Linked DNA regions of Homo sapiens: regions 1 and 2 are each linked to region 3. Evidence: fine-mapped expression QTL. A gene starts in region 3. Each other region holds a variant in brackets. All regions are shown on one strand. Distances are between the middles of the regions. Region 1 overlaps PTBP3 (polypyrimidine tract binding protein 3). Region 2 overlaps PTBP3 (polypyrimidine tract binding protein 3). Region 3 holds the start of PTBP3 (polypyrimidine tract binding protein 3).

Region 1 (5,000 bases), 110 kb before region 3:
CAATAGTTACATCATTATCATACTAATGGCACTTTAAAAATTTAAAATGGAGACAAGTATTCCGAATTTGCTACCTTTCTCAGAAATAACACGATGGTGATGTAACTATTCTTTAAAAACTAAACATATACCATTTGTTTTGCAAAATGTGGGTGTTTATTTTTTGTAGAGATGGGGTCTCACTATCTGGCCCAGGTTGGTCTCAAACAATCTGATCCTCCTGCCTTGGCCTCCCAAAGTGTTGGGATTACAGGCATGAGCTGCTGCACCCAGCCATTTTTTAAATGAGTGAGAAATTAACTACTTTTGGTATGAAACATGCTTTGGCTAGAAAAGAGTCATATTAAAATGTATTATTAATACTTGATTTTATTACTGAAAATTACATGCATCAATCATTAATAAAAACTTTTATAGTGACTGCATATGAGCATGAGGAATTTCTCTCGGGCGTTGAAAATTTTCTAAAATTGGACTGTGGTGATGGCCACACAACTGTGAATTTACAAAAATCTTGAGTTGTAAACCCAAAGCAGGTAAACTGTATGGTTGTAAATTACATCTGAAAAAATTCCATTAAAAAAAACCTATCAGCCTGGTGTTGTGGCTTGCACTTATAATCCCAGCTACTTGGAAGGCTGAGGGAGGACGACTGCTTGAGCCCAAGAGTTTGAGACTACAGTGAGCTATGATCACACCACTGCACTCCAGCCTGGGAAACAGTGAGACCCTGTCTCTAAAACTATCACATTCAAAAAATTTGGAAGCAGTTTTCTATCTTATTTTAAAAATCTTACAAATGAAGCATATCAGTGAGTTTTAACTCTATTTGTCAGACATATTCAAACACAACAGTTTTCAAGATCCACTGATTTACGGGGAAAAAATCTAACTTTTCTAGATAAAACATGACAAAAATTGGTGGATTACATGAAAAAAATAATGAAATAATTATTGAAGTACAGCAACAATGAAACCCCTGCATTTAGATTATATATATTTATGATTTATCTTCTTCAGCTATGACAACCATTAAAATCAAGTAGTGAAATAATCTACCCTTGGATTACTGAATCAAAATGAAAACAAGGATTTTTAGTAATATCAAAGCATATTAATCATACTGCTCATTAGATGTTAATCATGTTTTATGGAAAAATAAACTGTCCTTAATAAAAATCTTTAAAATAGTAAATATTGCTTATTTCATTGTTCTCATATTTCTATGCTGTTCGAAAGTTTGGAGACTATTTTTAAAACCTGAATCGCATTATACCACTCTCTTGCCTTAAAATTATTCAATGGCTTCCGATTGTTCTTAGGTAAAAACCAAATTCCTTAACAAAGCTTTTAACAGCTCTTCACGATTTTGACCCTACGCAGCTGTCCACCTTCACCAGGTCTCCATTATGCTTGCCTATGCTCACCACTGGGCTTCCTTCACTTCCATGCACCAGGACCCATCTCTCCCCTCTCCCCTCCCCTGTGAAGACATTGCCCTCCCTTTCTGCCTGGCTGATTCTTACTCATGTTGAACAAGTCAGCTTAACTATCATTTCTATTGAGTCCCTCTGCTAGGTTAGGTCTCCCTGCGTTACACTCCCTTTACAAAACCTATATTTCCCATACTATAAATCATCACTGTAATTACTTACTAAGTCTTATTCACTGTTTTATCCTCAGTGTCAGCACAATACTTGGCACACAGAAGTAATCAATACATATTACTAAAAAAGTGAAATGTGCTCAATTCACACCTGTAGACAATAATAAAATAGCAAAAATGAACTTACCAAATAGGATAAAAAGCCCATGTGGTGTGATAAGCTGTAAAGGGTAACACAAAGTTAAGTGTCTGACAATTTAAGTAAAAATTGAAAATAAGTTTATTTATACTGTAATGGCAGTTGATTTTATTTTAAAGCATGGTTTTATATGCTTCTTCCGTATATACTAGTGATGAATTTTAATAGAAGTTCTTAAAACAAACTTAAGCATTTTAATTTGAATACAACCCTGGATCAGAAGCTACCATGGCTAGGCATGGTGGCTCACACCTGTAATCCCAGCACTTTGGGAGGCTGAGGTGTGTGTCGCTTGAGCCCAGGAGCTTGAGACCAGCCTGGG[C/A]AACATAGCAAGATCCTGTTTTTACAAAAGAATTAAAAAAAAAAATTAGCCAGGCGTGGTAGTGGGCACCTGTAATCCTAGCTACCTGAGAGCCTGAGGTGGGAGGATCACTTGAGCCCAGGAAGCAGAGGTCACAGTGAGTGAATGCAGCACCACACTGAAGCCTGAGTAACAGAGTAAAATCCTTTCTGAAAAGAAAAGAAGAGAAGAGAAGAGAAGAGAAGAGAAGAGAAGAGAAGAGAAGAGAAGAGAAGAGAGAAGAGAAGAGAAGAGAAGAGAAGAGAAGAGAAGAGAAGAGAAGAGAAGAAAAGAAAAGAAAGAAAGAAAAAAGTGCTACTATACCTTCTCCTGAAAGACTATTTACATATAATACTTTTCAACTCACATCAGGATTGAGATTTGTGACGAGTAGAACAGAATTTCCTGGTATACCACTAGCCCCAGGAATGGCCATCCTTCCAGTGACAGCAGAAGAGGTGATTGTGAGAGGACCAAGAGCTCCAGGAACAGCTGGAACTGATAGACCTTTTAAAAATACCAAAAGCATTTCATATTCTAATTATTTGAAGAACTGTAACACTTGATACAATTTAAGTAAATAAAGAGGAAAGGAAAACTACAGAAAGAAAATGTGTCAAGGCTACCATAAAGATACTGAAGGCCAGTTTTCTGCCCTACAGAGTCTGTCTGCAAGCTGAGCTCCTCATCTATTGACATTACTATACTTAGTGCTCTATTATCCACACAGTACTCTGCAGAGTAACTGAACTCACTGGGCCTAACGCTATTAGGCTTTTCAGAGGGTCTATCAACTACAAACACTCCCTCTGTTTCTTACAATAGATATATCCTAACACCCTTCTATCAAGTGTATATGCTTTTCATACTGACTTCTACCATAAAATCAGATATGTATTTTTTTAAAGTCCTTCAGCAGAAAGTCAAAAACATGCATGCTAGGTAGTGCTATATGACATTTTATATGGGAAAAACATTTTGTGACTGTATAAAATGCTATATTAAATATTATTCTGACCAAAATAGATATTTACAGAATTCAATATTCTTTTGTAGCAGAAATGTTCTGAGCTCTCTACTTCTCTAGGTACTATGGAAATCCTGAAAGCTCAGTAACAGCAGAATACTGACACTATACTTAAAACAGCACACTTTCCCACTATTTTGTGTTCTCAGCTTAAAACCTGTCTAAGGTAAAACCTCTAGTTTATGCAAAATGAACCAATTCCTTAATTTAATGACTCTTTAAAATAAACAGTCTGACCACTTCACCACAAATCATGTAATTAAATTATAATATATTTTACATTCAGCCTATTCTGCTTGATAATCTAAGAAGGTCATAACTACCATCATCCATACTGCTGAATTTTAAAACTGTGCAGACCACATTCTCAGGCTGAATACTACTGCACGAAATCAATAGCCTTCACATGACATATTCCCATGCCCCTCCAGTCCAACCCTGACTTTTGCATAACTTTTGCTGTTTGTATGTCTGTTATTCATGAGCTAAGAGCACAGTTGAGCTACACTGTAGGGTGTGTGTGTGTGTGTGTGTGTGTGTGTGTGTGTGTGTGTGTGTATCTTCTATCAGCTTAAAAGTCTTATCAAGTCAGAAGCCCTCTTTTATTCACTTTTCATCTTTCTTAATATTAATTAATATTTATATATAGAGTATATCTAAAAGAAATATCCAAAATGAGGGAAAACATATCAAAATGTCCACCAATTGTTAAACCTTGAGGAGCTTCAAATAAATAAACTATGTTTTTAACACAATAGGTAGAATATTCACTTAATTAAACATATGTTAAGATATACTAAAAACCACCAAGATGGTAAAATTTAAAACCTCAACCTTCATATCACTCTTTCTGTTAACTCCATCCTCTCCATCAAAAAGAGAGTAGTTATTGGCCAGGTGCAGTGGCTCACCCTTTAATCCCAGCACTTTGGGAGGCTGAGGCAGGCTAATCGCTTGAGGCCAGGAGTTTGAGACCAGCCTAGCCAACATGGCGAAACCCCACCTCTACTAAAAATACAAAAATTAGCTGGGCGTGGTGACATGCACTTCTAGTCCCAGCTACTCAGAAGGCTGAGGCATGAGAATCATTTGAACCCAGGAAGTGGAGGTTGCAGTAAGACAAGATTGCACCACTGCATTCCAGCCTGGGCAACAGAGTGAGCTATCTGTCTCACAACAACAACAAAAAAAAGAGAGAGAGAGAGTAGTTAAAATTCCCAGAATTCAAAGGTTAGAATATAAAGATTACTGCCAGAAAGCAGCTATGTTGCAATTTAAAATGTAGTTAAAGTCATGAATCAGTTTAAGTTGGAAATATGTGGAGTAGGCTTACCAAACTCTGTCATTCCCCTAATCACCAACCTCAGTGTTTTCTTTAGACACCAGAGATAAAACCATAAAGTAACATTTTCTCTTTTCCTTAAATTATAATCAAATTCATTTTGTTTACTGTTTTGAAAATAATGGGAATCATTATCAACGTATTAATCAACTCCTATCTCTTAATTACCTCCATTAGCTAAAGAGACAAAATATATATCCCCTGAAATAAACAGCATGCATACCCCTCTATCGTAATCTTCAAAACCCATTAATGACAAAAGGTTTTCCAAAGATGAATAGTGAATGTATAGTATGACTGCATATTATTTGTTGAGTACTGTCAAAGGCATTGAAGGCCCAAAGATAAGACAGGTCTGTTCAACACATAATTGATAAGTTTATCAGTAAAGACAGAGCAGCTTATACATTTTATATAACAACTGGAAAGGCAAATCTAAGGTTATTTAATGTAGTTAGCCTATAGTTATTTGTGCCAAAAGCAAAC
Region 2 (11,176 bases), 120 kb before region 3:
CCTTCAATTACTTCTTTAATCATGGCTCCTTTTAGTTCTCTGAACAGGTTCATAATGGCTACTTTAAAGTCTTTTCTGATAAATGCAACATCTGGTTCCTCTTACTGTCAATTTCTGTTGTCTGCTTTTTTTCTGCTGTTTGGGTTGTACTTTCCTGTTTCCTTGTGCTTTGTAATTTTTGGTTTAAAACTAGATATTGAAAATCATATATTGTAGTAACTCTGGTTGCTGGTCCCCCCTTCTCTGGAGCTTATTATAATGTGCTTATTTATGTAGTAAACGACTGGATTATTTTAGTGAAGTCCCTTTTCTCCAAACTGTGTTTAGCCACTAATGTTGTTCCTTCAGGAGGTACAGCACTGGGTATGCCCACAGTCACTCCGGAATCAGTGGGTTTGGTGGGTCTCTCCTCCTCTTTTCACTGACCCCACCTACCTGCTAAAACCATACTATTATCAGATGATTGCTCTAGTGTTTTCAACAGTACCCTGGGAGCACAAACTGCTCTAAAATTTATACAGTTGAATTCTGGCTTCTTCAACTGAACAATTTTTTAGGTCAGTGTTTGATTTTTATTCTGACCCCAGGAGGATTCTTCCAGCTATCTTATTCCCAGTTCTCTCCTGCAAACCAGCCTTCTACAGTTTAACCTGTATCTTGAATATTCTCCCAGTTGCCTTTTATCACACCTCACTGACCTTGAGAGTGCTTTTAGACTTGAAATTATTCACTCTGCTGCAATAAGCTAAATTCCTTCTGAAAGAGATGAAAAGCTATCTGTTTTATGGTGGGTTTCTCCCCGCAGGTACAATCTCTGAGCCAGGGCACTGGAGCTGGGAAAGGGAACGATGGTAAGCTTCTCTCTGAGTGACATCCCCACTCTAGGGGCTAAGCCCTTGATTGTGAGGGAGGTGTTAAAGAAAAAATTATTCTGACACTTGTTAAGATGAGAAAGAAGACTTTCTTCAGAATGATCCCGATAGGTGTCAAGATAATTGAGGCTGGGCGCAGTGGCTCACGCCTGTAATCTCAGCATTTTGGGAGGCTGAGGTGGGTGGATCACTTGAGGTCAGGAGTTCTACACCAGCCTGGCCTGGCCAACGTAGTAAAACCCTGTCTCTACTAAAAATACAAAATTAGCCAGGGATGGTGGCAGGCATCTGTAATCCCAGCTACTTGGGAGGCTGAGGCAGGAGAATCACTTGAACCTAGGAGGCAGAGGTTGCAGTAAACCAAGATCGCACCATTGCACTCCAGCCTGGGTGACAGAGCAAGACTCCGTTCTCAAAAAAAAAAAAAAAAAAAAAAAATTATTGAGATAGAAGAGATCAGTCTCAATTACAAACTCACGAGGAACAAGTAGGGATTTATAGGCAAGGAGTAAGTTGGAGAAGGGTTGTCAGTAGATGGAAAATTACTAAGAGGAGACAGAAATGAAGGGTAAGGGAAATTCTTGCTACATTTACCAAACAGGATTCTTGCTTAAGTCAGGTCAGGTTGATCAGATATAAAGGGTCAAGGGGATTCTTTTTAAACTGCCAGGATTCTTGCTAAAACTGGGCTCTTGAGGACAAGGTCCAAGAATGAGGCCTAGTCTAAAAAAGTTTCTAAGCCTGGCCAGGTGCAGTGGCTCACACCTGTAATCCCAGCACTTCGGGAGGCCGAGGCGGGTGGATCACAAGGTCAGGAAATCGAGACCATCCTGGCTAACACGGTGAAACCCTGTCTCTACTAAAAATACAAAAATTAGCCAGGTGTGGTGGCAGGCGCCTGTAGTCCCAGCTACTTTCCCAAGTAGCTGAGGCAGGAGAATGGGGTGAACCTGGGAGATGGAGGTGGCGGTGAGCCGAGATCACGCCACTGTACTCCAGCCTGGGCGACAGAGTGAGACTCTGTCTCAAAAAAAAAAAAAAAAAAAGTTTCTAAGCCTGACTAAAGTTTGGGTAAGGAGAGAGCCTCTGTCAGTGCAGAGCAGCTGGGGTCCTCTCGGCTTGCCTCTCTTGCCATGGAACCACCACCTCGCAAGCCAGGACCAAGGCCCCATTATCTTAGCATGTCATGCCTAAGGAAGCCTCCAGTCCATGAGTGGGGTCTGGGTGGAATAAGAGAGCCTCAGCAACAGGTGGCTACGAGCAGGATGAGAAAAGCTGTGGTTCTGCTATTCCCAGGACGAAAGCCCTCTGTGAGGGGATGTTCTTGGCTGCAGCAGCCTGTCTGGGGGCCTGGATAGAACAAAAGGGCAAGAAGAAAGGCAAATTTCCTCTCTCCTAGAGCTAGAACACCATTTTATCTCCTGTCCTTTGGCATCAGAACTCCAGATTCTCTGGCCTTTGGACTCTGGGACTTGCACCGGCAGCCCCCTGGGTTCTCAGGTCTTTGGCCTTGGACTGAGAGTTAGACCAGTGGCTTCCCTGGGTTTTGGGGCCTTCAGACTTGAATGAGCCACCCCCTACTGGCCTCCCTAGCCTGCAGACGGCCTGTTTTAAGACTTATCAGCCTACAATCACATGAACCAATTATATCTACCTACCTACCTACTTATTTATCTATCCTACCTGTTCTGTCTCTCTGGAGAACCCTGACAAATCCAAAGCCCTAGTCCACAGTACCTCAAAATCTGACTGTATTTGGGAATAGAGCTTTTAAAGAGGTAAAGTACAATGAGGCCATATGGGCAGGCCCTACTCCAATATAACTGGTATCCTTTAAGAGGACATTGGGACACAGACTCACACAAACCAAAAGATAACCAACCACGTGAGAACATAGGGAGAAGGTGGCCATCTACAAATCAATGGGAGAGGCCTCAGAAGAAACCAAACCTGCTGACTGACACTTTGATCTCAGACTTCTACCCTCCAGAATTGTGAGAAAATGAGTATCTATTATTTAAGCCACCCAGGTTGTTGTATGTAATTTGTTACAGTAGCCCTAGTAAACTAATACAATGTACACGGAACTATTTTGGCCTCCTTGGGACTGCCCATATATGGGCAATCTATGCTTCTGGGGAACATGATGGAAGAAGTTATGGTTATCACACAAATGTACAGGTCAGAGACAATAAACTTTGGTGAGGGTATGGATCTATGAATCCATACGCTCAAATACAGTTGTGCTGTTGGAGTTTGTCACTGAATTCCCGAAGCCCTATATAGACAGCAGATGTTTTTGTAGGTTGAGGCAAGGCTCCATTTTCCTTCTGTATATGTTCAGCTCTCTGGGTATTTCATTCATCAGATGGCAGCTTGGCTTAGAGAAGGTGTTGGTCTGTATTAACGCAATGGCTGCCACCAAGTCACTACAAGCACTAGGGTTCTATCAATGATGATCTAGCTCAGTGGCTTTGTCATGGGGACTGCCAGGGGAAAGAATCTGGGGCTGGTTCCGTCAGAAGCTCCTACCAGCTGAAAGGAAATGGCAGATATTCAACAGATAATCTACTGTATGCTGGTCTCTGCATGGGTATTTTATTTCTTATAAAGAAGATCCTGCTTCTTACTAAATAGGGGTTGTCACTAGAACCCTGTAATCTCTTCAATCTTTATGCCCTTATTTAAAAGAATTTAGAATAAATTCATTCTAACAGTGAGCTAACATCATAGACCAAGCACACAAACTAACAGTTAATTCTGCAGCCCTGGGAACTTTTTTTTTTTTTTTTTAAATGACAGAGTCCCGCTCTGTCACCCAGGCTGGAGTACAGTGGTGCGATCTTGGCTCAATGCAACCTCTGCCTCCCAGGTTCAAGCGATTCTCCTGCCTCAGCCTTCCGAGTAGCTGGGACTACAGGCGTGAGCCACCACACCTGTCTATTTTGTATTTTTAGTAGAGACAGGGTTTCACCATATTAGCCAGGATGGTTTTGAACTCCAGACCTCAGGTGATCTGCCGGCCTTGGCCTCCCAAAGTGCTGGAATTGCAGGCATGAGCCACCGTGCCCAGCCAAGAACTATTTTTTGAATAAAAAAACTGGAAGTGTTCTGAAAATACAAGGATAGTCTGCCTGTTCTAGAAAATCTGGGGCTGGTAGCTACTATTCTTGGACCATATTGAGAGATGGTTAAAAACATTAGATGCTCAAAAAATCAGGTAAATTATTTAGATTTAGTTTGCAAGCTAGTCCATGTTGCAAGAAAGGACATACCAGTGCTTTCCATCTTTATTATAATGTTCCTTGATGGCATGGCTAGACTTTTACAACTTTGGATCCTCTGGCAATGCATATATCTGTCAAATCAGCCCACACTAAAGCACAGCAATAAGAGGCATGGGGGTGAGGGAGCGATCAGGACAATCCTAAACCTTGGCATTTTTTCCAGATGAGATCGGGTGCAGTCAGGGTAGTATGGCATGCAGACATTTGTGTTTTTTTCAAAGTAATTCCTACCTAAATAAGTTTTTGTTCCTACCTAGTTATATTTCATTCTCAAGTTCATATATATTGTTTCTGTCATAAAGGATAAATGTGCATTGAAAATTCATAGGATATATAAGGCAATCTAAGACAGCTATGATTAACATATCAAGTCACACAAAATAAGAAGTATAAAAGAAGCATAAAATAAAGTTAAAAATGAAATGAAACACTAATAAATGAAAAAACAAACATTGCGGAGGATCAAAACACATGAAAAACAGGTTATTTGAAAATACTTCTGCAAGATGGCTCAAGAAAAGGAGAAAAGGCACAACTGAAAAACAGTAATATGGATATACAGGCTGGGCGCGGTGGCTCACGTTTGTAATCCCAGCACTTTACAAGGCTGCGGCAGGCGGATCACTTGAGGCCAGGAGTTCGAGACCAGCCTAGCCAACAAGGTGAAACCCGTCTCTACTAAAAACATAAAAACACAAAAATTAGCCAGGCGTGGTGGTACACGCCTGTAATCCCAACTACTTGGGAGACTGAGGCACAAGAATTGCTTGAGCCTGGGAGACGGACATTGCAGTGAGCTGAGATTGTGCCACTGCACTCCAGCCTGGATGAAAGAGCAAGACTCTGTCTCAAATAATAAGTAAATAAATAGTAAATATAAACAAAAATAAAAATGGGTATAGGCCGAGTGCAGTGACTCACTTCTGCATACTCAGCACTTTGGGAGGCCAGGAGTTTGAGACCAGCCTGGGAAACACAGCAAGACCTCATCCCTCCAAAAACAAGAAGATATAATTACTGATAAGGCAGAGATTTAAAAACATTATAAACTTTAACCAATATGTTTGAAAACTACTATATAAATTAATAGTTAATAATCTACCCAGTAGAAAGGGAGAGGGGCAGGAGTATAGAAGATACAACGCAGAATATGAATCACGTAAGTTAGGTGACAGAAACAAAGTTTCATTATATCAGTCTTTCAATTTTACAAATGTTTGTGTTTCCATAAAAACAGGCTTTAGAAAAAGGCAAACTTTTGGAGGAGAATAGGAAACAAAAAAAACCCAAGCATTTATTTTGCCTTTCTA[C/T]AGAAGCTGTACCTCAAAGTAATGAAATAGCTGATATGGGGGTTTCTCTTATATAGAAGAAATCCAACTAATACAAGCAAAAGGAATTAGAATTATAGCTTTACCATCTTGCAGTCCCTAAAAATTAATGGATCTAGGCAATGATCAATGGATACTGCCATCAAAAGAAAAGCCACATTATGGAAGTATCCAACGCTATCAATGAAGTATTCTTACGAAAAAAAAAAAAGGTAGGGGGGAAGGGGAGGCAGGGAGAAAGAAGAGAGAAAACAGAATCTGAATGAGCTCTTCTCGATTTACATGTAATTGGCAAAATTCAAAGAGCTGTTTCTTCAACAAATAAATTACAAAAAAAAAAGGATGGAGAGGGAACCTGTAAAAGCCTTTATCAACTGCAATGTATGGACTTCTATACTGAAATGTTTACAGATGAAATTATATGATGACTGGGATTTAAAAGAAATCCTAGGATAGCCAGGTGTGGTGGTGCATGCCAGCTACTCAGGACGCTGCGGCAGAATTGCTTGAACCCAGGAGGTGGAGGCTGCAGTGAGCCAAGACCACACCACTGCACTCCAGCCTGGGCAACGAGAGACTCTGTCTCAAAAAATAAAAATGAAAAACTAAAAGTAATCCTAGGAGTGGGGTAAAGAACAGATTAAACAAAATTGGCCACTAGTTGCAGTTGGGTACTGGGTAAATGGGAGTTCATCATAGTAATACTTGTGTATTACAAATCTTAATTTTTGGCCAGGTGGTGGCTCATGCCTGTAATCCTAGCACTTTGGGAGGCCAAGGCAGGTGGATCACTTGAGGTCAGGAGTTCAAGACCACCCTGGCCAACATGGTGAAACCCTGTTTCTACTAAAAAATACAAAAATTAGCTGGGCGTGGTGGCTCATGCCTGTAATCCAAGCTACTTGGGAGGGTGAGGCAGGAGAATTGCTTGAACCAGGGAGGCAGAGGTTGTAGTAAGCCAAGATTGTGCCACTGCACTCCAGCCTGGGCAATGGAGCAAGACTCCGTCTCAAAAAAAAAAAATCTTAACTTTTATAAAGTCTTCTCTTAGGATGCTAGAGATCTAGGTAGGTCTTTCTGGCTTCTTTTGATAAAATATATTAGGAGGCCAGATGCAGTGGCATACTCCTGTTATCTCAGCATTTCAAGAGGCTGAGGGGGGAGGATCACTTGTGTCCGGGAGTTCAAGACTAGCCTGAGCAACATAGTGAGAACTCGTCTCTACAAAAAATAAAAAATTAGCTGGGTGTGGTGGTGGGTGCCTATAGTCCCAGCTACTTGGGAGGCTGAGATGGGATGACTGCTTTGAGTCTGGGAGGTTGGCTGCAGTGAGCTATTGATGGCCCCACTGCACTCAGCCTTGCCAACACAGTGAGACCCTGTCTCAAAAAATAAAAGGGAAATATATTAGGGGTTAGATGTCAAACAGCTCACCAGATCAGTTACAGTGGCAAAACCAAAACTAAAACACATTAATTAAATCTTTCTGAATCTAGTTGGATGTAAAACTGTTCGGAAGGGTAAAATTTACTTGAAAACATGTTTTTTTGTTTGTTTTTTTTTGGTCAGTGAAATATTTTTCCTGTAGATATGCCGTGGTCAGGACAATGCAATATATGCACATGTAAGAGTTTCATGTTGAAACTCAGTCCATGGTATCTTGGGTTCTTTATAAGAGGGCCTTACTTATTGGCTAGAATAATCTGCTGACTTAAGAAAAGAATTGGTTGCTAGCTCCTTGCTCAATTATAATAATTTTTGAAACACTCCTGGGTAACTGGTACAAAGTACATTAACCAGATACCAGAAACCCCTCCTCATACTCTTTCAGTTACCTCCTTCCCAAAGGTAACTATCCTGTTTCTGAACTTGATGTACATAAAATTATATAGTGTTTGTACGTGGCTTCCTTTGTTCAGCATCACATCTGTGAGATTCTTCCATGCAGTGGAATGAGCTTCATTTTGTTCAGTTGCATTACTATATTCTACTATAGAACTCTATCATTATGAAATCTATCCCTAATAATGCCTTTTGCCCTAAAGTGTACTTTGTCTAACATTAATGTAGTTAATAACAGTTTTATTTTGAAGACAATCTCTTAACAGGTTAGAATGTGACATTTGTATTCTGCAGGAATAAGGACTGAGCAGATAATTCTCTAATTTTAGGCACAGAATAATGATAGAGATGCTTATCAAGTGATTAGAGGGCAATTTATTCCAAAAGAAATATTGAGTTTTTCCTGTTACCCTGTCTATATCCTTAGAACAAATATAGGGGTAAAAAAATTGAGAAGGCTGGGCACAGTGGCTCACCCCTGTAATCCCAGTGCTTCCTACTGTAATCTGAGAAGGGAGGATCGCTCGAGCCCAAGACTTCAAGACTAGCCTAAGGAACAAAGTGAGACCCAGTTTCTACAAAAGTAAAAAGTAAAAAACTTAGCCAGGCACATACCTGTAGTCCCACTTACTTGGGAGCCTGAGGCAGAAGGAAGGCTTGAGCCCAGGAGTTTGAGGCTGCTTCAGCCTGGGCAACACAGTGAGACTCTGTCTCAAAACAAAACAAAAACAGAAAGAAAAATAAAAAAATAGACATTATGAATCTGCTAGGAACATTAGAATCATTACTTTTCTGGTTTCTTTATACTAGTAGAGTTGGAAACTCTACATCAGAACCCAGTGGCTCCAGAATGTGGTAATTCCAGCAAAATTATTACTAGAGTTTTATCACTTCAGCATAAACTGTTTTGATAAAAAACACACAAAGGAAAGTGATGAATTCCCATTATAGGTTGAAATAGACAACAGGAAAAAAAGCTTTGATGTAGAAACAGTAAGACTACAAATAGGTCTATCACTCCTAACTATACCTAACCCAGCATCCCAGTTCATTTATCACAAATGTTAGACATTAAATACTGGGCACAGCTTGTCTGACGATGTCCTCTTATTTCTACAATTGTTTTTTTAAGTAATGGCATTTGTCTTAGAAATAATCATTGCTCTGATATGGCTATTTATCTCTAAGAGTAAAAAGGACAAATTATGGCAGGGTCTATATTCCTACATATTCACAACTAGCTGTAGGATAGTTATAGCCATATGTATTCTGAGAAGTGCCTCAGAGAGGCCTCATGATCCATTTTTGGGGATTCCTATTGAAGGCAGGAGTTCAAAAGTAACGTGTTTAATTTGTGGATTTAGGCTGACATATCTACTACATTACACATTTCTAAAAGGTAAGTCACCACGTGCTTAACTCTATATTTTTCCCAACACCTAGCTCAAGTGCTGGTACAATCAGTACTCGGTGAACTGAATGAATAAAACAGTGCTATGGGGCTGAATTTTGTGTCCCCCTTCCCAAATTCCTACGTTGAAGTCCTAATCCCCAGAATCGCAGAATGTAACCACATTCAGAGACAGACTCTTTAAGGAATTAGGGTAAAATGAGATAATATGAGTAAGCCCTCATCTTTGACTGATGTCCTTATAAGAAGAGATTAGGACATGGACACACTCAGAAGAGCGAGCTTGTAGAAGGCGCAAGGAAAAGACAGCTATCTACAAACCAAGGAAAGGCATTGGAAGAAATCAACACTGCTGACACCTTGATCGTGGCCTGCGAGCCTCCATGAACTGTGAGAAACTCATTTCTGGTGTCTAAGCCACCTAGTCTGTGGGACTTTTTTATGGCAGTCCTAGCAAACTCATACAAACAGTAACTACATTTTTTGTTAGTTTTCTGAAATTTAAAATGTGAAACGACATTAAAAAATTTTTCAGAAGTAGATAAGGCATTTTTACCCTTCATCAGAAACATTCTCACCACTTACTCAATGTCTTTACGTTGCAGTGAGGTATGATCATGTGGCTTTTAGGAGAAAACATAAGCACTCCAATACTGTGTACAGATCTTCAAGATCATAACCTTAGCAGCACTTGGAAGTCTGAAACTGCAACACCTGGGTGCAATAGAGTGCACTGGACCAAGTCACAGAGACCTGGGCTTCCTTGCTGTTAACTGGAAATTGAACTAGGTGGTCTCTTGGGTCACTGACATGACTTAATGATGGTTATAACCCCTCTGCTGAGTAAATAAGCATTTCACAGTCAATCGAGTTTATAAAAGCCTAATATAGTCATACAGTTATTTTATCTTTTCCTGATAAAAATGCCTCATGTAAAAATACCTATTTATTTTCCCAGTATTTATGGAGACCACAGATTTTACAGGTAAGCCAGCAAAGATTAGTAGTGATTACCTAATTTTCTATTCCATTCAAAATAAATTCCCACTTCCAGGAGACTAAAATATACAATGAACGCTAAGTCTAGACTTCTGCAATCCAACAATTCTTTAAAGATCTGAGAAGTAAAACGTTTGTCTAAGGAAAAGGAATGTAGCATCAGCTAGTATCTGTGCTACCTTTTTAAAGAGGACACAAATTTGGTTTGAGATCACACCTTGTGTCTCAAAGTGTATGTATACTAATGCCGTAGGGAAGCCAAATACTGAACAAAACTGGAAATAGTGTTCCAACTGTAGTTTGGCACTGCACATATGGGGAGAAAGAGAGAAAGAAAAAGGAGAGTGAGTGTGCAAGCAAGAAAGCATGCCGCCATGCCCCTGCATTACGGGGCAGTGCCAGAGAAGGTGCATCATAGGAAGATTAGGAAAGCACTTTGCTCCTCAAAACGAGAATTATTCCTAAATGAAGACAGAGACAGTTAATAGATTTTGTGTTTTTCCCATTTTGAACATTGTTTGAATATGTGCTCACTATTCACTAACCATGACACGTTTAGATGGATGGCTATGGAAAAGAAAAGAAAATAGGACATCATTAGAATTACAGGTAAGACAAAGGGAAACCCAAAGTACAGACAAGAACACAGAAAAATTTTAAGAGAGTACAGATGTCATGACATTTATTAAAAGGCATGCTACAATGCTATATTTGTTAGGAAAAGAGATTAGAGATATCAAGTAATAGTCAGCAAATATACAAACTGAACGAAAATGGAATATACTGTAGTGTACAGAAGCTTGAATTAACCATGCACTACGCATTTAGAAAATATGTTTTTTAATATTTTATCTTCTCTTTGCATTTATAACATAATTCACTTCAACAATCACAGACTCCTTTTTTTCCAATGCCACAGACTGTTACAAATGAAAGCTGGTACTGCTGCTTATCCAAAATATACAAGACAATTGATGTTTTATATAAAACCACTTTATAAGTTCATTTGTTCCCAAAAACCTTTTTTTCTTTTTTGGCCTTGTTAAAAAAAATGTTGTTACAAATATTTACAGCATTTTCTTCTGTTAGACGAACATTCTTAAAAACTGAAAAGGGGAATTTTGATGAACAGACCACGTAAAACACCAGACAATGTCAGAGGCTCCTAGCTGTGCTATTTTTTTTTTCTTAGATACAGTACTGAAAATGCCCATCAAACTCGTCATCCTAATCCATTCTGTTCACACTGAAACTCACATTTTCTCTAAGTAGTCTATTCAGCAGTAGAAATTGAAAGTAAAGGCCGCTCTGCACTGGTTCTTCTTTCAGAAAGGAGCTTGGGGAAAATGCAAAATGCTTTACAGAGAGGAGTTAAAACCACAACAGTCAGTCTTTGGTCAGAGCAATGAGGTGACACTTTGATGCAAAACTTTGCTT
Region 3 (10,926 bases):
CTATGGTTATTGGTTCTGATACAAAGGGCAAATCATGCTCCGACTTGAACTTCCAAATGAACTTACCTTCCAGTCAGTATCTGTATAACTGCCTTGCATATTCAAACCAATAAACCCATTACTACCTTTAAAACCACAAATAGCGTGAAGGGAGAGTAAACTTCTTAAACACTATCAAAAAGTAAGTTTGCACTTCACAGTTATCCTACAGTTTAACAGCAAAGACGCAAAATTCAAGAGTCCTCTTTATTATAACTATACATTTTACGACACAAAAAAATAGCCTGCTTCCATTATTTAAGTCAAACCTTCCAGACAATTAACTACACATAATGAAATGCTAAATTCACAGCCTGCCTGAACCAAAATATTAGTGACACAAATCTTTACGACCACAAAATTTTTCAACATATAAAATGCAACTGAATAAGGTAATGTGAAATAAGTTTTCAACAATGTTCTCGAAGAAACTTCAATCAAACAATAAAAACAGCTTCAATTCCCCCCCAAAATATATACACCTACTGTGTACCCAAAAAAGTTATAATTTTAAGAAATTTTTTGAAGCTTCAATCAAATAAAAATAAAGAACATCACAATCATGAATAAAATCTAAAACTCCACTTTGATGTCTGTAGCAGTGTGCAATCTGCATTCAAATGAATCAATCCGAAATGTCATATACACTTAATATTGTGAAACTAAAATAAATGAAATCTAATGAGGTCAAAAGCTGTTGGAAGATTTCATCTTCAAATAGCATATCATCAACTGTATGGCAACATGTGAACGACTTTTACTGTTCTAGCAAGTTGCATATATTCCACAACCTCACAGAAATCTTGTCATCAAAAGTAGGTAACAAGCTAAAAAAAACCTCAAATACATAATGGGAATAAACCGAGTTGGAGATTTTTTTTTAATCCGTAGGTACAGATACTACAACCTTCAATTAATTCACCAAAATCCTAACATAGTTGTTACTTTAATTACCAAAATATGTCAAGTCCCACCCCATATCCCTGAGTCCCCAGAGAACAGTTTATATACATAGACTCTAAATCTTTTTATTTTGGTCACGGACCCCCATTAAATTTTTGAGCATTTGAAATGCCCCCGAAAATCGCTCGTACATCATATTTTACATACACGGGCAGATAATTCATTAAGTTTCTTGGGGAGAGAGAAAGGTGAGGGGGAAGCGTCCATGGTCACTAAGTCCAGACCCCTGGTGTCGAGAAAGCGTTAACGTATCTCACAGCACAAGTCGGGAGACCTCGGCCAAGTCCCGCGGCGGCCCTGGGACCCCGCGTGGGACCATGGCTTGCGACCAGGTCGCCGCCCAGACGTGTACCGACGCGTGCACCCGCCGTCGGCCGCTCGCCCCACCTCGCCGGTAAACAGCAACTCCCCCGGCAGGAGGACGCCCGCCCCGCGCGCCGCCTCCGCCTCCCCCAGCGCCGCGCACCATTTTCTGAGAGGAAGTGTCGGGAGGCCGAGCTGGGCTCCCCGGACTCGGGGCGCGGAGGGCGGACCTCGGCACCGCGGCCGGACCGGGCTTTCCTCTGCTCCCGGGTGTGTCGAGTAAGGCTAGGAAGCAGCGGACGTGTCCGGGGCGCCGCGTGGGGAAAGGAGAGCCTGCGGCGGACGGCAACTCCGCGATTCCGGGATCCCCACCGAGACGCCCGGAAGCCCCGCCGTCGGGCTTGGCCGGGGCCGCTCCTCCGGCCGCCGGCGCCGCGCACTGCTCCCCAGCCCTTACGCGTCCCGCGGAGAGCCGGGTGGAAGCGGCGCCAAGGCAACCCGGTGCGGCCGCCGCGCCGCCTAGTACTTACCCATCCATGGCCCAGATGGAGGCGCGCACAGAGCAGGGACTGACGGGCTAACCGCGAGCAGAGGAAGCAGGCGGCGGCAGCAGGGCGGTTCCGGGGACAAGCGAGCTTTGGCTCTGCGGAGCCCCGGCCGGTCCGAGGTGGAAGGAGAGTGGGAACAGGGGCGGGGACCGGGCACGCTCCCGCCACCGCCGCGCCCCCGCCTTCCCCACCCCGCGAGCGCGTCCCCGCCTAGCCCGACCCCGCCCCCTCACCGTCCCCGCCCTCCCTCGGGGCCCGCCCCTGCGCTCGCGCCCACCCTCGCCCCGCTGGCAGCCGGCCTCCGGCTCAGCTCTGGGGCGCCCTCTTCCCGCGGTCGCTGTAAGACCCCGCCTCTCGGCCCCTCGGCCCGGCGCGCGCGCGCGCCCCCAGCCTCCCTCCTGCGTTCGCGGGAGCGCGCGCCTTGTGCTTCCCGCTCCGCCGCGCACCCCGCCCGCCCTCCCGCGGCCCCGCGGGCCTTCCGGCTTCGCAGACCGGGCCTGCCAGGTTTGAATGCCTCCCTCTGCCGGCAGGAAAAGCTATGGGGACCTGACTCCCAAGAGTAGGAAGGAATGTCCCACAAGGACCCCAGAAACGAGGTGGAATTGCCCCGGGTGCGCGAGGCTGTAGATGACACGTCCAGGGACCAGCCTCTGGCAGCCCGGCGCTGGAGTCGACCGCTGGGACCGACACCAGCCCCATAGGTGTGGCTGGGACGATGAATGAGGTGAAAGAGGCTGCCCGGACTGGAATTTGTATACAATTTAAGTATCTGAGTGCATTTCGACCTAACCGTCTAGTATTGAATTTATATGAAAAATTCATTGTACAAACATGGAATGGCTATATTCCCAGCATTTTTTAAAAGTTTACTCATTATTCCCTTTTTTCAGATGAAAATACATATACAAAGAGAGTGATTTGCTCACAGTTTCACAACCAGGAAACGTTTGCACCAGAGCCCTTCCCTCTGGTCTGAGCAAAAAGTATATATATAATATAACGAGTGACAACACGCTTGCTTTTTTCCCTTTTTAGTGAGAAATTGAGTACTTTTTCAACTCACAGATCACCAAAATGTAACCCCCTAAACTGTTAAGCCAAATTCTTAACCTACTGAGTAAAAAAGAGCGGGGCTCCTCCCCGTGGCTTCGTCATTTGAAAAGCAACTAACAAGAACCTCAAACATCTATCCTTGCTAATTTCCTGCTTTCAGATCAGTAGGTGCTGCTAAAAAGATCTAAACTGTGGACTCATTCATCATTCAGTCAGTATTAACCTACTATGTGCCGGGCACTGCATGAATACACAAGAAAATCAGGTTCCAGCCGTCACTGTTGAATGGATTCTTCAGTCCGTTTATGTATATTTTTGACATACAACTTTTCAAATAGGTAGAGTAATTCGGTGAGGTAATTCTTAAAGTCCTGTATCTAACCTCAGTCCCCTTCCAAAATGTCAAATACATTTTGTTTTGTATATTAAATCTAAATATTAAGTTGCATTTGTAAACATTGCCAGATGGAAATGTAGAATATCAACAAGATAAGTAGCTGATGCAGTCTTTCTATCACTGTATTTGGGATATATTCTGTTGATGAAATTTCCTTAACCCTTTTTTTAGCTACACAAGTAATATCAGCATAAATGCTCATTTTGGAAAATTCAAGCACTATAAAATATTGAAAAGTTATCATTAATATTTTTCTTCCCAAACCACCCCCTGCCCATGACTACCACTGTAACAATTCTGCGTGCATCCTTCTGGACCTTACTTTTTTTTGTTGTTTGTTTTTTTGTTTTTTTGTTTTTTTGTTTTGAGACGGAGTCTTGCTCTGTCTCCCAGGCTGGAGTGCAGTGGCACAATCTGAGCTCACTGCAACCTCTGCCTCCCGAGTTCAAGTGATTCTCCTGCCTCAGCCTCCTGAGTAGCTGCGATTACAGGCGCCCGCCACCACGCCTGGCTAGTTTTTGTGTTTTTAGTAGAGACAGGGTTTCACCATGTTGGTCAGGCTGGTCTCGAACTCCTGACCTTGTGATCCACCCACCTCAGCCTCCCAAAGTGCTGGGATTACAGGTGTGAGCCACCGCACCCAGCGACCTTTACCATTTTTCTTTTTTTTTTTTTTTTTTTTCACCTAAAAATCCTGGATTATAGCTGGGCATGGTGGCTCACACCTGTAATCCCAGCACTTTGGGAGGCCGAGGCGGGCAGATCACTTAAGGTCAGGAGTTCGAAGCCAGCCTGGCCAACATGGTGAAACCCCCCATCTCTACTAAAAATAGGAAAATTAGTCTGGCTTGGTGGTGCACGCCTGTAATCCCAGCTACTCAGGAGGTTGAGACAGGAGAATCTCAACCCGGTAAGCAGAGGTTGCAGTGAGCCGAGATCACACCACTGCACTCCACCCTGTGTGACAAAGTGAGACTCCAGGCTGGAGTGCAGTGGCACAATCTCGGCTCACTGCAACCTCTGCCTCCCAGGCTCAAGCAATTCCCCTGCCTCAGCCTCTGGAGTAGCTGGGATTACAGGCACCTGCCACCCTGCCTGGCTAATTTTTGTATTTTTAGTAGAGACAGAGTTTCACCATGTTGGCCAGGCTGCTCTTGAACTCCTGACCTCAAGTGATCCACCCACCTCGGCCTCCCAAAGTGCTGGGATTATAGGCATGAACCACTATGCCCAGCCTCATAATTTCATTTCATAATTTAACCTTTTCCAAAACAGTGGAAATTACGTTGTTTCCAAGTATTCAAAATAACTAACACTATTGCAGAAAATATCATGAATGTATGAGTATCTTTGCACACATATTATTACATCTGAGGAATAGATCCCTAGAAGTAGAATTGAGAAACAAAGGACATAAGCCTTAATATCCTTTATATAATTCAACAATCCTTTATATAAAGCCTTTATAGCCTTTATAATTCAAATTTGATAAATTTTTTGAAAATGATTCCAAAAAGGCTGTACCAATTTACAGTTTCTTTATTTAAAAAAAAAAAAATTTGGCTGGGCATGGTGGCTCACACCTGTAAATCACAGCACTTTGGGAGGTCAAAGCGGCAGCATTGCTTGAGCTCAGCAGTGTGAGACCAGCCTGGGCAACATGGTGAAACCCTGTCTCTATATTTTTATAAAAATAAAAATAAATTATTAAAGTTATGTCTCTCTTACCCTTTGCTTTAAGCTAACAAATTTTAATATTAAAAAATAGCAGAGCGTGACCCCTATCTTTGCTATTCCAAATTTCAATATTAAAAAATAATACAGGAAGACCCCATCTCAATAAATAAAGGTAAATATAAAGTGTGTCCGAAATTTATTGTTCATACTAACAATAATTCCGAGAAGTCTGCAATGTAAAAACAGTGCACCTGACTGAAATTAACAAAACTGTTTGGCATTTCCTAAATACTCAATGTCCAGCTTTACAACAGAAGCCTAGATATAAGAAAACAGAAAACAGTTTACAACAAAAAAGGTGAAGCCTTAACTCTTTCCCCTGCCCCTTGGTTCTAAATTCAAAGAACTTTTTGTTTGTTTGTTTGTTTGTTTGGAATCAGAGGCTTGCTCTCTCACCCAGGCTGGAGTGCAGTAGCGCGATCTCAGCTCACTGCAACCTCTGCCTCCCAGGTTCAAGCAATTCTCCTGCCTTAGCCTCCCTGGTAGCTGGGATTAGAAGCGTGCACCACCACACCTAGCCAATTTTTGTATTTTTCATAGAGATGGGGTTTCACTGTGTTGGCCAGGCTGGTCTCAAACTCCTGGCCTCAAGTGATCTGCTTGCCTCCACCTCCCAAAGTGCTGGGATTACAGGCGTGAGCCACCGTGCCTGGCCAATTCAAAGAACTTATAGATTAAGCTCCATGGGTTTGTGAGTCACTTTGATTCAAAAATAGTAGGTAGCATAGAGTTTAGCTCCTCAAGAACCACTTTGAGAAACCTAACTGTTCCCATAGCCTACATGATGTGGAAGAGCCACAGCTTTCTATCATCTCCACAGAAGTTTCTGGAATCAGATATCTCAGATATCACCTACATGACCTGGTTTGACCTGAAACTGATGGGTTCTATATACTGGCTTCTTGATAGTGAAGAGAGTTACATTTTCTCTATTTGCTAATTGCTCTGTGCTTTGAAAAGGAAGACAGATACAAATAATTTAGTTTATAATTTTTCTAACATTTTCTCTTGTGTTTTTGTTCTGATTTGACTAAGAAATTCCCCTGACACACCTTTTTCTGATGAGAGACACCACCCCCATCACGATTATCTTTGGACAACATGTAACCTTTGAACACTTGCCTTAAGGCATTCCAGTAGGCAGTGGTTAGTTAACATTTAACCAACATAACCCTATTTCTGTTTACAGGTAAGACTTCTTAATATATAAAATAATACAAAGATGCCAAATAAGTCAGAAATAATACCAGCTATTAGGTGAATCTAGGAAGCTGGACATTTTAATATCATTCTATCCCATGACAAATACAAAATCATCATAATTAACATTGCATTTCCCAAAACAGAAACATCTGAAATTATACTAAATGAAAAAAGCCAATCTCAAAAGGTTACATGCTGTATGATTCCATTTCTATAACATCCTCAAAATGACAAAATTATAGAGATGGAGAACAGATTAGTGGTTACCAAGGATTAGGAAGAGGGTGGGAGCAGATGGAAGAGGATACAGACAACTGTGACTACAAGGGAGTAAGAACGGGGATATTTGTGGTAATAAAACAGTTCTGTGTCTTGATTATGGGGTGGTTATACAAATCTACACATGATAAAATTGCATAGAACTTTAGATAAACACATGCATGAAAAAGTGACAAAATCTGAAGAGAAGTTATGGATTGCACTGTGTCTGTGTGCTGCTTTTAATAGTGTAATACAGTTACTAAGATGTTACTATTGGGGGAAACTGGTTGAAGGGTACACAGGACCTCTTTGTACTTATTTTTTAAATTTCCTGTGAATCTACAATTATTTCAAAATAAAGAAACCTTGGCTGAGTGTTCCCTTAATATTTGTTGTTATTTGTTCAATAATTAAACAATAACAAACATCAAAGGCTTAAGCAAAATGGCATGTGAGTATAATTTATAGTTTTCAGGCTGTATCACCTTGGTAGTCAAATAAGGTTGTAACAGCTGACACACACTGACTCTGACCGACTCTGCCCAGTCTGTTGAATTATGAGCCTTTCTTCAAAGTCCTTCCCAACTATTTGAAGAGGCGGCATGTAAGTGTCTCCTACATGCTCACTGACTTCTCAGCAGCTATGAATCACGTCCATTTTTGTCATCCCATGCCTGGCCCTGATGTAATCATCTCCACATGAAGTTCTTAATATGGCCAGTGCCTGGCACAGAGGACTCATGTCTATGCTGAAGGTGCTGTCCCTTGTCACTGTCCTATAGTATAATTTGCCAGCCCATGCCAAAGTTGCATTGGGCTTTCTGGAGCACTTTTCTGAAAAGGGGAGTATTCCTCTCCCTGTTTTTTGTCATACTATATCACCTAGGTTCCAGTGTCTCCCAGAATTTTTAATGAAACAGCCTTTTTTATTTAAATTCACAGAAAATCATCCTTTAAGATTTAGGCAAGGGCGAAATGCCGTCTCTACTAAAAATATAAAAAATTAGCCAGGCGTGGTGGCTCATGCCTGTAGGCCCAGCTACTCAGGAGGCTGAGGTGGGAGGATCACCTGAGCCCAGGAAGTTGAGGCTGCAGTGAGCTGAGATCGTGACACTGCACTCCAGTCTGCCTGACACAGCAAGACTCTGTCTCAAAAAAAAAAAAAAAAAAAAAAAATACAGGCGTGAATCCTAAGGGGCTAAGAAAATCTGAATGATAATCACTACAGTGATCTAAGAATCATCATTGCCCTTTAAAATTGACTTCTTTTTGTCCTTAAAACTGTTGTCCCCCACTCTCTATCCTGAGGATGAATTTCTTAACCTAGAAGTCTCCCAGACCCCACTTAGAAGTAAATCTCTTGGATTGTTGTTATTTTTTTTCTTTACCTTTATTTACTTGCCATTTTTATTTTTTTTCTTTTCACTCTTTTTTTTTTTTCTTTTGAGACAGTCTCACTCTGTCACCCAGGTTGCTGTGCAGTGGAATGATCTCGGCTCACTGCAACCTCTACCTCCCAGGTTCAAGCGATTCTCCTGCCTCAGCCTCCCAAGTAGCTGGGATTACAGGTACACCCCACCACACCCAGCTAATTTTTGTATTTTTGGTAGAAATGGGATTTTGCCATGTTGGCCAGGCTGGTTTCCAACTCCTAACTTATCAGGTGATCTGCCCGCCTCAGCCTCCCAAAGTGCTGGGATTACAGGTGTCAGACACCATGCCCTGCCTGCCCAGCCCAATTTTTAAATGATATAAATTTCTATCAGGATTATAACCATGACACTAAATGTTATAAAAATTCATATTTATTTAAACATGTTTATTTTTTATTTATTTATTTTCTTGAGACAGGGTATCGCTCTGTCACCCAGGCTGGAGTGTAGTGGTGCAATCGTGGCTCACTGCAGCCTCAACCTTCCAGGCTCAGGTGATCCTCCCACCTAAGCCTCCTGAGTAGCGGAAACTGTAGGCATGTTCCACCACCACACCTGGCTAATTTTTGCTGGTGTGTTCTTAGCAACCAGAACAATGCCTACTACATAATAGGCAGCCAATATTTTATTAATTGAACATGTGAAACAGCTTGTGCCTTGCAAAGACAATCTTCCTTTTGTTTCTGAAACTGTTTATTGTATTAATACTAAATTTGTATTTCTGGTAAACTTGCCCTATATTCTTCCTCAGCATTACCAATTCGTTATTTATTAGATCTTCATTCTATTACATATTTTTCTTTAATGTCTTGTGTTTGTTTTTTCTTAATATTTTATATGATTTTCTCAAGTCTATTCTCTCCAATCATAGTTCAGATTTCTGCAGTATTAGTTTGATTCCCTGCTATTTTAACGTGTTTTTAAATAACATAATAATTTTGTTTTCTCCTCTTCTCTTTCATTTGTTCTGCCAGCTTTTTTAAAATGTCATGTTATTGTCTTATCTATGTTTTAAAATCTCTTGTTTAGGGCCGGGTGCAGTGGCTCACGCCTGTAATCCCAGCACTTTGGGAGGCTGAGGCGGGTGGATCACCTGAGGTCAGGAGTTTGAGACCAGCCTCAACATGGAGAAACCCCGTCTCTACTAAAAGCACAAAATTAGCCGGGCGTAGTGGTGCACGCCTGTAATCTCAGCTACTCAGGAGGCTGAGGCAGAATTGTTTGAACCCGGGAGGCGGAGGTTGCGGTGAGCCGAGATCGCGCCATTGCACTCCCGCTTGGGCAACAAGAGCGAAACTCTGTCTCAAAAAAAAAAAATAAATAAAATAAAATAAAATCTCTTGTTTCATGGACTCCATATTTAATTATCCAAAGAGGATAAAGAAGTATTTTGTCTAATGTTTTCTTCTTATCCGTTTTTGTTCCTCTTTAAAAGTGTAATTTTCATGTTTTTACATATTATATTCTTCTACTTCATTTGGGTGTTTTTGTTTTGGTTTGGATTTCTTGTGGGGTTTTTTGTTTTTGTTTTTGTTTTTGGCAAGATCTCTGCTAGAATTTGTTTTGTTTTGTTTGTTGAGTCAGGGTCTGTCTCAAGTCGCCCAGACTAGAGTGCAGTGGTGTGAGCTCGGCCCACTGCAACCTCCACCTCCTGGGTTCAAGTGATTCTCCTGCCTCAGCCTCCCGAGTAGCTGGGATTACAGGTGCACACCACCATGCCTGGCTAATTTTTGTATTTTTAGTAGAGATGGTGTTTCACCATGTTGGCCAGGCTAGTCTCGAACTCCTGACTTCCAGTGATCCGCCTGCCTCGGCCTCTTGAAGTGCTGGGATTACAGGCATGAGCCACCATGCCTGGCCTCTGGTAGAATTTTATTCCCTTGTTTGTATCCGGCAAGAAAAGTGTTTTTGTTTTTCGTTGGGTGTGTGTGTGTGTGTTGTTGTTGTTTTTGTTTTTGTTTTGAATGATGGCAGTACTACTTTGATCTGCAGCTTACTAAAGAATAGTGTGAGTTGAGGGCTCACAAATCTCATCTCAGCTTTTCTGTGCGTTATTGATTTTTTTTGTTTTTGTTTTTAAGTCACTTGTAGGTCTAGATATCAATGGTTTATATTCTTGTTTCATCTTTCAATTACTTGGTGGGGATGGTGAAGTGGGAAGTGACTGTGAAGTGACTCCAATAAGTAGATAGCCATCAAGTAAGGTGTGCTTTCTCTCAGAAACTTCACAAAATTCTTTACATAGTTCTGCTAAATATCCACATTTGGTTTGGTTTGTTTTCCCTGAATTCCTTTAGAATGACTAGGTCCCTGTGATGGCTAATTTTAGGTGTCAACTTGCCTGCTTTAAGAGACAACAAGATAGCTGGTAAGGCATTATTTCTGGGTGTGCTGTGAGGGTGTTTCTGGAAGAGATTGGCATTTGCATCAGTGGACTGAATGAGGAAGATCTGCCCTCACCCAATGTGGGCAGGCATCATCCAATTGGCTGAGGGCCTGGATAGAAAAAAAAGGCAGAGGAAAGGCAAGTTTTCTCTCTTCTGGAGCTGGGACACTGTTCTTTTCCTGCCCTTAGACATAAGAACTCCAAGTTCTCCAGCCTTTGGACTCCAGGACTTGCACCAGCAGCCTTCTAGTTTCTCAGGCCTTTGGATTTGGACTTAGACAGAGCCGCATTACTGGCTTCTTGGGTTCTCCAGCTTGCCGATGGCCTATCATGGAACTTGGCCTCCATAAGTCTCCTCTCATATGTCTCTGCGTGTGTGTGTATCCCATTGGTTCTGTCTCTCTAGAGAACACTGACTAATACAGTCGTCTTCACAGAAGCCTGAATATACTCTATAACATATAATATAAGAGGTTAGACTGGACACAGTGGCTCACGCCTGTAATCCCAACACTTTGGGAGGCCGAAGTGGGCGGATCACTTGAGGTCAGGAGTTCGAGACCAGCCTGGCCAACATGGTGAAACCCATCTCTGCTAAATATA

What was found. PIP is the estimated chance that this variant, and not a neighbour inherited with it, causes the effect.
Region 1: its variant is fine-mapped to the expression of PTBP3 in whole blood (TOPMed, PIP 0.98).
Region 2: its variant is fine-mapped to the expression of PTBP3 in cerebellar hemisphere (GTEx, PIP 0.96).

Annotation. Positions count from the first base shown.
Region 1 is chr9:112,229,587-112,234,586 of GRCh38, forward strand. It overlaps PTBP3 (polypyrimidine tract binding protein 3), which reads right to left. Exons shown (of 14, transcript NM_001163788.4): 9 at 2,513-2,652; 10 at 1,794-1,827. Among named protein-coding and RNA genes, the nearest start is that of SUSD1, 57 kb to the left of the region's middle. The variant C/A (reference allele first, on the strand shown) is at 2,128.
Region 2 is chr9:112,208,042-112,219,217 of GRCh38, forward strand. PTBP3 (polypyrimidine tract binding protein 3) reads right to left here. Exons shown (of 14, transcript NM_001163788.4): 14 at 10,394-11,176. Among named protein-coding and RNA genes, the nearest start is that of SUSD1, 38 kb to the left of the region's middle. RefSeq lists an enhancer at 11,113-11,162. The variant C/T (reference allele first, on the strand shown) is at 5,470.
Region 3 is chr9:112,331,635-112,342,560 of GRCh38, forward strand. It overlaps PTBP3 (polypyrimidine tract binding protein 3), which reads right to left and starts at 1,985. Exons shown (of 14, transcript NM_001163788.4): 1 at 1,836-1,985. RefSeq lists silencers at 1,350-1,839, 1,990-2,309, enhancers at 2,059-3,029, 5,902-6,401, 6,080-6,224 and a cis regulatory region at 6,145-6,158.